Linked DNA regions of Homo sapiens. The protein of the gene in region 1 purifies or fractionates together with the protein of each later gene. This does not show direct contact. Each region holds a gene or a part of one and is shown in the gene's direction. Other genes may lie near its edges.

Region 1 (3,150 bases):
ACATTCAAACTATTGATTCAAAGAGTGGGAAATATTTAAATATGTACTTTGTTATGCCAGTTTAAAAAATAATATTGTGTTCTGTTTTCATCAAATGAGCTTCACTTTTTCTATTTTATATACAAAAGGGCACTAAGTATATGCCCAAATGACACTAAGGCAGTGATGTGATAACCCGTAGTTTATTTTCCCTCCTCCCCAGTAGAACTGACTGGGCAGGGGTCAAATAGAGAAGAATTAATCATCCTCTGGTAATCATCCTCCATTGTGAGCAGGTTACTTTGATATGGGCCAGTAGTGATTGCCGAAGGCTTTTCTATGCCCTAGAAAAATTTTCTAGAGTTCTATTGATATATACTGAATGATCTTGCAAAAGGGAATGTTTAGGATTTTTTTTTTGCAATATGTTTTAAGTGGGCCCATTATCTACATCTCAAAGATAATTCTCTCTTCCCCTTTTCCCCTTTTGTATTTCCTTTTCCTACAGACAAATATACTAGCTCATAAAATCATCTTGAACACATCCTTAAACACCTGTTTAGCAGCTCTTTCCCCTAGAAAAGGAAGAAAGTTTAGTCTCAATACATCAAACACTACATCATTTTTCCATCCTAAAAAATCTCAGGTGCTTAAAATGCCACAGCAAAACTGTGTGAATGTCAGTAAGTTTTTGGCTATATTTTTAACCCTATTTTGGGCTTAAGACAAAGTGAGGAAAATGTCATACAATTCTGTAATACACTGATACTCCAAATGAACATTTTTATTTCATGTTATTTTCATTCTGCAGCTCCTTTGGTGAAGATTAAACAGAGCTTAACAAAACTGAAGCAAGAAACTGTAGAGATGGACATTAGAATTGGCATTGTGGAACACACACTACTCCAATCAAAGCTGAAGGAGAAGTCCAACATGACTAGGAACATGCATGCCACAGTTATTCCAGAACCAGCAACAGGCTTTTATTAAAACATACTGGTTTTCATGTTTCTGATTAGTTGGGTTTTTTATATCAAACTATATTTCATGTTGCATAGATTTCAAAACATAATTTTATGTTCAATGGGTATTTTTTTACATATACATACTCACATATTATATCATGGTGATTATGATGGTTAAAGCCTTTACACTGAATGTAATGTTTAATAAAGAAATTACAAATTCTCACTTTCTAAGAAGCTTTCACTAATCATTACCTATGTTAAAGCTCCCACCTGGTGGCTCATTTTTCATAGCATTCCTTGTGTAAGCCAAGGTATATGACCTGCGTTTTCTGCAGATGCTGCTGCTGTCACAACATGAACTGCTGACACAGTCCTTTACCTTGCTCCACCTCTGCAGTGATCATAAGTGCTTTGTGCCCAGAGGCCACTGAAGATGGTAGGCAGGATTCTTTCCAAGAACCCAAACTGCCTTTGCCTCAGCTTTATGGTTACCTAAAATTGCCACTTTTTTTAGGTTAAAAAAAACTTCAGTATCCTCATTAACATTTGAAGTTGGTTTCTTATGAATATTTCGTGGCTAAAATGATTTTATAGGGAATCTATCTTCTAGGATCTAAGCCACTAAATAAAAGGATAAATGAATGATGATAAGTCAGTCACTCATGTTTGACTCTGTTCTTAGAATGAAGAGAAGGTGCATATGCATGTCTCAATTTCTACCTTTTTCTGTGGTATCGGCTATACTAGGGAACCATTTTGTAGAAGAAGGAACGATGACAGGTCGCATGAAGATCAGCCTCTAGTACTGATGATCTTTACTTATGCATCTTCCTGAGCAACTTTCTAGGCTAGGATTTCTAAATTGGTGAAAAAAGCAGCATTAGAGTGCCAGAATTAGCACTGGGGAAAACTGGCCAGGGGAACACAAAGCAGGAGACAGCCTGCGTTAATTTTTTTTTTTTAATAATTTTCAAAAGCAGTGGTAGAAAATTTGATAAGAATGCTTTATGTTTAGGACAACAAAAATAATTTTAAAAAGTTATTTTTTACCCTAATACTTTTCTCCACTGAATATTATTATTTTTTTCTTAGCTTTTTCTTTCTAGATGTATTCCCCAACATGCTCACATACACAGATCTTTCCCTTTCCTTACTAGACCTCTCTTTAGTTTAAGATAAGTTTAGACAGGAGAAAGTGTATGTAAACTACCTGAAAGGATGACAATCAATACAATGACAAATATGCCAGTTTATTTAATTTGTTTAAAAAAAAAAAGGCAGAAAACCCACCATGGGAAAATAAGCATTTTTTAAAATCTGAAGTTGCTCTTTTCCTGTGTGGTCTTTGGGAGGAGTCTAATACAAAAACTGAAAACCTTTGGTCCTGGGAATTTATTTTCATGGCTGTTGTCATGGCTGAGTAGTTTTTTGATGAATTCAATCAATGCAGAGAACGCTTTTAGATAAATCAGAACTCTCCTTAAAATGCATTTCAATCAGAAGCAAAGTACACCCATTATTTATGCAGACATGTAAAAAATCTAAAAATTCTTGCAATGAGTAGTATAAGCCACCTATTTTTACTTCCTTCTCTGAAATATTCCAGTTAACTCAGCTTGGGTTCTGTGCTCCTCCTCTCTTCCTATAGAACACTGTGCATACCTTGAATAAAGAGCTTATTATACTATATTGTTATTTTCTTCCATCCTACCTAATGAATTGAGCTACTTTAGGATAGGACAAAGTCTTTTATTTCCGTATTCCTTGCCAGGTGCCCAGCACATAGAAAGTGTCTAGTAAATGTATTGAGTTAGTAAATGGATGAGTAGATGACTGGCACTGTGTGGATCCAGGATACCTTCTAGCTCCCATTCTATAGCATGAAGAGTTTAATGACATTAAGCCTGTGTGCTTGGTATAGTTTCAAGATAGCGATTAAAAACAATGGGTTCTTTTCCTATGGTATTGGATTAGAATTAGAAACATCAGTATGAACTCATGGGTTTTTAAAAGTAAGTATAGATTAATAGAAATATAGAAATATTTAACATGTAGTAATACACACACACATATTTCCTAGTTGTGTCCTCTGATAGAGCCTAGTAGCAGTGACAGCCCAATTACAACTGTGGGCACTCAGATCTTGATGTCTAAATTCTCTTCTTTAAAAAAAAAAGGAAGTCTTAGATTTCTGATTCCTGGG
Region 2 (7,037 bases), on another chromosome or scaffold:
AACTCAACAAATGTTTGTGGTGTTCATTTCCAAGTCCTGCTCTCTTGAAAGCACTAAGGCTTTTCCTGAGGTGACCCCAACCTATGGATCAACAAGTATTAGTATTACTGTTTCTTAATCTGTTTTATAGTAAATCTAAATATGGTTGTATAGTTCAACCACTCTATTTAAGATTTCTCTAAATACAAGGCGACTGATCTTTAAAACTTGTGTTATTTGGGTCCTATGTGGTCACTAAAATTAAAAAAAAAGACAACTCAGAAACATGAATGTCATCCTACGGATTCCCCTCAGAAATAACCACTGTTAACATTTTAAAACACTTTTTAATCAGCTGAATTTGAGTCAAACCACTGTTGACATTTAAAAATACTTTTTCTTCATGACATTTTATAAGGACGGGTGTTTCTTCCTTTTAGCAGTAAAAAGAAATGAGATACTAAAGAGAGAAATGAAATTCACAGCTAATCCCTCAATTCCATTTTCATGTATAGCCATCTACTTCTCCCATTGAACTTAAATATATGCTTTTTAGGTAGCATTTTTGGTATTTTAAATTTTATCTCCTTTTTGCTTTCCCTTGTAGAAAGTTGACAAATAGTCCCTAAAGCTGTCAATAGGTTGGAAATAAGAAGGAAAAGTAAAGACAATATCTAAGTTAATAAGTAGTTGCTGTGTGATGGGGAACTGAATGAATTGTATTTTTCCTTGGACAGATTTCACAGAGATGATGAGAGCCCTGGGATACCCTCGACATATTTCTATGGAAAATTTCCGTACACCCAATTTTGGACTTGTATCTGAAGTGCTTCTCTGGCTTGTGAAAAGGTTCGAACGGCACTTTATTGACATCTAAGAGTGAATACTGGGTTTTATTTATTAGTCATCTAGAAAACAGGACACAGCTGTGATGCTGCAAAAGGGAAAGTTTTTGGAATTTGACAGACCCAGCTGTATTCTGTTACAAAGGAGTTGTGGCTGGGCACAGTGGCTCACTGCTCTCATCCCAGCACTTCATAATCTCAGTCATTCAAGACTAGCCTCATCAACATAGCAAGACCCTGTCTCCATACACAAAAGAACAATTAGCTGAGCCTGGGTGGTACACACTCATAGTTCCAGCGACTCAGGAGGCTGAGGCAGGAGGATCACTTGATCCCAGGAGTTTGAGGCTGCAGTGCCACTGATCATGCTATTGCACACCAGCCCGGGCAGATTGAGACTGTGTCTCAAAAAACAAAATCAGGCCGGGCGCAGTGGCTCACGCCTGTAATCCCAGCACTTTGGGAGGCCGAGGCGGGTGGATCACGAGGTCAGGAGATCAAGACCATCCTGGCTAACACGGTGAAACCCCATCTCTATTAAAAACACAAAAAATTAGCCAGGCGTGGTGGCGGGCGCCTGTGGTCCCAGCTACTCAGGAGGCTGAGGCAGGAGAATGGAGTGAACCCGGGAGGCGGAGCATGCAGTGAGCCGAAGTGTGCAGTGAGCCGAGATAGCGCCACTGCAGTTCAGCCTGGGTGAAAGAGCGAGACTCCGTCTCAAAAAAAAAAAAAAAAAAAAAAAATCAGTGGAGTTTAAAGAATGCTGTGGGAGTGGGAAATATACCAGGAAGTCGTGAAAGGAGACGACTATTCCTCAGTAGGATGCTGGGCCAGGCTGCTCTTCAGCCCCTCATGGCAGAGTGACAGGGGCCTTTTTGCACATTCTGATCAGTACACTGGATTAGAAATAATGGAGATTTCTTTTTCTGTGAAAAAATTGAATATGTTATATGATTCAGGGTTGGCAGCTTTTTCTGTTAAGGACCAGATAATATTTTACCTTTTGCTAAATATAAAATTCATAAGATCTCTATTGCGTCTCTTCTTTTTGTTAAAATGTAAAAACAGTTCTTAGCTTGCAGGCTGTACAGGTCGGAGGCTGCAGTCTGCTGACCCCTGGTTTCAATACCTTGAAGAAAATAACTTCACCAACTCTGCTGCTGCTTAGAGCTGACTAATCGGCCCTAGCACTGATCTCTGAGTCAAGGGCTGTCAGCCAGGGTAGCAGTTCTGATTAGCTTCATGACATGGTGAGATCTGAGAGAGATTTAATTTTATAAGCTGAGATCCACATTTAGTTTTTGAAATCTGTTTTTCTTAGGTGGGGATTTGCTCCCTTGGTATTTGGTTTTGCTTTTGAAGTTTGCCTTGATCTCACTCTCCCACTTGGGGACTTGGAGAGCGTTGTGTTCCAGACCCGCTGTCCTCTCAGTTGCCCACATTCTCTTTAGTAGACTTTCTCCTTGGTTAACCCGTGCTCTCTCCTCTTACCTCTCTTGATAGATATGAGCCCCAGACTGACATCCCGCCTGACGTGGATACTGAACAGGACCGAGTTTTCTTCATTAAGGCAATTGCCCAGTTCATGGTTAGTGGACACTTATTTTGTGGAGTTGTAAAATTAAATAAACTAGAAAGGATGACTCCTTGTTAGGGCGACTTTCAAACTGTGTAATTGAGTTTTTCTTTCTTTTTTTTTGAGATGGAGTCTCATTCTCTCGCCCAGGCCGGAGTGCAGTGGCACAATCTTGGCTCACTGCAACCTCCGTCTCCTCGGGGGTTCTCCTGTCTCAGCCTCCCGAGTAGCTAGGATTAGAGGCACACGCCACCACACCTGGCTAATTTTTGCATTTTTAGTAGAGACTGGGTTTCACCATGTTGGCTAGGCTGGTCTCAAACTCCCGACCTCAAGTAATCCACCCTCCTTGGCCTCCCAAAGTGCTGGAATTACAGATGTGAGCCACCACGCGCCTGGCCTGAGTTTGCTTTCTAAAACCATTCCATTGCTGGGTTTCTGTGGCACCATTTCACCAGCGAAGTTCTTTTTGTTTGTCTTTTAATTCATTATTTGTTAAGAATTTTGTTTATGCCAGGTGTGGTGGCTCACGCCTGTAATCCCAGCACTTTGGAAGGCCGAGGTGGGCGGATCACGAGGTCAGGAGATTGAGACTATCCTGGCTAGCAGGGTGAAACCCCGTCTCCAGTAAAAATACAAAAAATTAGTTGGATGTGGTGGCGGGCACCTGTAGTCCCAGCTACTCGGGAGGCTGAGGCAGGAGAATGGTGTGAACCTGGGAGGCAGAGCTTGCAGTGAGCCGAGATCACGCCACTGCACTCCAGCCTGGGCAACAGAGCAAGACTCTGTCTTAAAAAAAAAAAAAAAGAATTTTATTTATTTATTTTTGAATAGATAACATATTTCATGGCTCACAAATTGAAAGTAGGCTGGGCGTGGTTGTTCATGCCTGTAATCCTAGCACTTTGGCAGGCCAAGGTGGGAGGATAGCTTGAGTCCAGGAGTTTGAGAACAGCCTGGGTGATGTAGTGAGATCCTGTCTCTACAAAAAATAAATTTAAAAAAAATTAGATGGGCCTGGTGACACGTGCCTGTAGTCTCAGGTGCTTGGGAGGCTGAGGTGGGAGGATTGCTTGAGCCCGGGAGGTTGAGGCTGCAGTGAGCCGGGATCATGTCATTGCACTCCAGCCCAGGTGACAGAGTGAGACCCTATCTCAAAAAAAAAAAAAAAATTAAAAACATTATGAAACAAAATGGAGTAAAATGACTTTTTACCCTATCTGCCCTGGGCCAAGTTCCATTCCAAATAACCACTATTTTAAATCTCTTCCAGAGTTTGTGTGTGTGTGTGTGTGTGTGTGTGTGTGTGTGTGTGCAAATAAAAATATATATTTTTCCTTTGTTTTACACAAATGGTACTGTATTCTACTTGATGTACTTACTGTACACTACAAGATGTTTAGCATCTTGCTTTACTTAATGGTATATTTTAGAGAACTTTCCAAATACATATAGAATTTCCTCATTCTGTTTACGCCTGAGTGGTATTGCTTGCATGGATTTGCCATAATTTATGTAATTTATATAGGTAGGCTTTTAGGTTGTCTGAAGCTTTGCTCTTTGGAACAGTGCTGTAACAAATAACCTGTACATCTCATTTTGTTTGTGTTTGAGTGTGTCCCTAGAATAAGTTCTTAGATTTGGGATTGCTGGGTCAAAAGATATGTGCATTTGTAATTTTGATGTCTTTTACCAAATTGCTCTCCATCAAGATTGTCCCAGTTTATACAACCACTCACAATGTTTGAGTCACTTGAATGCTTTGCTTTTATTAGGTTATATCCCAGTTGTCAGCAGAGGCATTTTCAACTCACCTACATGGGATTTAGTTTAGACATTACATGGAAAGGGCCTTCAACTTTTTTTTTTTTTGGTCTAAAAATAGGCCACCAAGGCACATATAAAACTCAACACTAAGAAGCTTTATCAAGCAGATGGGTATGCGGTAAAAGAGCTGCTGAAGATCACATCTGTCCTTTATAATGCTATGAAGACCAAGGGGATGGAGGGCTCTGAAATAGTAGAGGAAGATGTCAACAAGTTCAAGTTTGATCTTGGCTCAAAGGTAAGGACAACAAAAGCCTTGTAGTGGGCGATGGAGCGTTGATTTCTTGAGCTCTGAAGTGGAAGGAGTCTGCTACAGCTCCGCTGCTTTTCTTCCTCCTCAGCTGAGGGCAGTTTGTCAGTTTTGTGCTCATCAGCATTTGGATAAAGTCAAAGTCACAATCCACTAATTCAACTATTTATTAAAAGCTTAGTATTTGTCAGGTAGCATTCAAGCGCTGAGGATACAGTTGTGAACAAAAAGGACAAAAATCGTGTGTTTATTCTCTTCAGTTAGGGGAGTCAGACTGTGAACAATAAGAGGTGTGGAAGGCCAGATGCAGTGCAGGCTGTGGAGAATAATAAGCTGGGATGGGGATGGATGCTGCCCAGAGTGATCTTAAATCGGGTGATCAGGAAGGCCTCATGGATTGGATGGTGTTTCCAGCAGAGATCCAAGGGAGGGAAAGAGTGAGTTGTGCGGGTGGCGGGTGGCGTCAGGGTGTCTCAGGATGATAATTTGTTTTGGGCTGGGTGCAGTGACTCACTCCTGTAAGCCAAACACTTTGGGAGGCCGAGGTGGGAGGATCCTTTGATGCCAAGAGTTCCAGACCAACCTGGGCAACATAGTGAGACGCCATTTTTACCAAAAAAAAGAAAAAAATTAGCTAGGCGTGGTGGTACACACCTGTGGTCCCAGCTGCCCAGGAGGCTGAGGTGGGAAGATCTCTTGAGCCCAGGCAGTCAAGCCATGTTCATGGCACTGCGCTCCCGCCTAGGCAACAGAACGAGACCTTGTCTGGGGGGAAGAAAAAAAATGTGTTTTGTGTGTTTGAGGAAAAGCAAGGAGGCCGTGTGATGAGGGTTGGGATTGACAGACCCTCTGGCGCCTGGGAAGCCCCTGGAAAGCCTTTGTCTTTGCCTCTAAGGTGGGAATCGTTGGGATCCAAGCGGAACCTTCTGTGCTTATTTCCCGTCCAAAGGGTTGCTCTGGCTGCTGAGCCGCCATCAGACCGAAGCAGGCGGCAGGGCTGGAAGCAGCGAGCCTGTTTGGAGAGTGAGGGGTGACCGTGGCTTTGAGCAGAGTGCTGGTGGGACAGGTGCCGTCAGGTGTCAGGGAGCGACCACAGCAGCAAGCCAGAAATAAAGGTTAAGCCGTTACTCTGAGGCCCAAGGCCTCAGAGCAGGAGACCTAGGAATGAAGGCCCCGGGGCTGGGAGTGCACCTAAGAGTGTGGCCACGCAGGGTACGTGAAACCACAGTGCACTGGCTGAGCTCCAAGTCTGCTGCAGGGAAGAAAGCTTCCCCTGTGAGGCCTGCTAGGTGAGGCCTTGTCATGGTCTATAGTTGGGCTTGAAAAGCCACACACAGCTTTTTTGTTTTGTTTTTGTTTTGTTTTGAGACGGAGTTTCAGTCTGTGGCCCAGGCTGGAGTGCAATGGCACGATCTTGGCTCGCTGCGCCTCTGCCTCCCAGGTTCAAGAGATTCTTCTGCCTCAGCCTCCTAAGTAGCTGGGATTACAGGTACACACCACCATGCCCAGCTAATTTTTTTTTTTTTTTTTTGAGATGGAGTTTCACTCTTGTTGCCCAGGCTGGAGTGCAATGGCACAATCTCAGCTCACTGCAACCTCTGCCTCCCAGGTTCAAGTGATTCTTCTGCCTCAGCCTCCTGAGTAGCTGAGATTACAGGCATGCGCCACCACACCCAGCTAATTTTTTACTTGTAGTAGAGTCAGGGTTTCTCCATGTTGGTCAGGCTAGTCTCGAACTCCTGACCTCAGGTGATCTGCCCGCCTCAGCCTCCCAAAGTGCTAGGATTACAGGCGTGAGCCACCGCACCCGGCTTTGTATTTTTTTTTTTTTTTTTAGCAGAGATGGGGTTTCACCATGTTGGCCAGCTAGTCTCAAACTCCTGACCTCAGGTGATCTGCCTGCCTCGGCCTCCCGTAGTGCTGGGATTATAGGCGTGAGCCACCGCGCCTGTCCTCACATGTGGGTTTTTAACCAGGAGCGACACTCGTCAGCAAGAGAAGTGTCTAGAGATTGGGGCATATTTTGATGGTAGATCTCACGGGATGAGGCATGGGTTGAGAGTAAGTCAGGTGCTACAGGCCGGGTCTTGGGGCAGCCGTGCGGCAGAGCTTGCAGAGCTCATGGGTGTGTTCCGCCTCTGTGCTGTACTCTACGGGAACCACTGGCCACATGTGGCAAGCACAACTGAGGAACTGAGTTGAGTTCTGCATTTTCTTTAATTCTTAAGTAATTTAAGTGAAAATGGCCACATGTGGCTATTGGTTACTATATTAGACATCACTGCTCTGAAGTTTTTTGTGTGAGCCCCTGGAAGGATGAAGTTGCCATGTACTGAAGCAGAGAAGGTTCTGCACATGCTCCATTTGCCACGCCGATTGGCTGTCCAGGTGGAGATGGTGCACAGGTAGCTGGTATGTGAAACTAGAGCCCAGGGAAAGCCCAGGCTGGAGCTGGGAGCTGGGGAGCAATCAGCACACAGATGGTATTAAAGCCTTGAGGGTAGGAGCAGAGCCAGCAGAAAAGACGGGGGGTCCAGGAATGAAACTCTGACTCGCTCCA

What was found. Proteins that work in one complex are often made in the same cells at the same time.
Region 2: the proteins of IFT57 (region 1) and CLUAP1 purify together in Homo sapiens (affinity purification with mass spectrometry; 6 studies listed by BioGRID and IntAct, with this or other methods). This does not show direct contact.

Annotation. Positions count from the first base shown.
Region 1 is NC_000003.12:108,160,296-108,163,445, reverse strand, and holds the end of IFT57 (intraflagellar transport protein 57 homolog), read left to right. Parts: intron 1-790; coding exon 791-969; 3' UTR 970-2,634; downstream 2,635-3,150. UniProt on the Homo sapiens protein: Required for the formation of cilia. Plays an indirect role in sonic hedgehog signaling, cilia being required for all activity of the hedgehog pathway.
Region 2 is NC_000016.10:3,504,004-3,511,040, forward strand, and holds part of CLUAP1 (clusterin-associated protein 1), read left to right. Parts: intron 1-716; coding exon 717-828; intron 829-2,327; coding exon 2,328-2,412; intron 2,413-4,285; coding exon 4,286-4,465; intron 4,466-5,890; exon of another isoform or gene 5,891-5,966; intron 5,967-7,037. UniProt on the Homo sapiens protein: Required for cilia biogenesis. Appears to function within the multiple intraflagellar transport complex B (IFT-B). Key regulator of hedgehog signaling.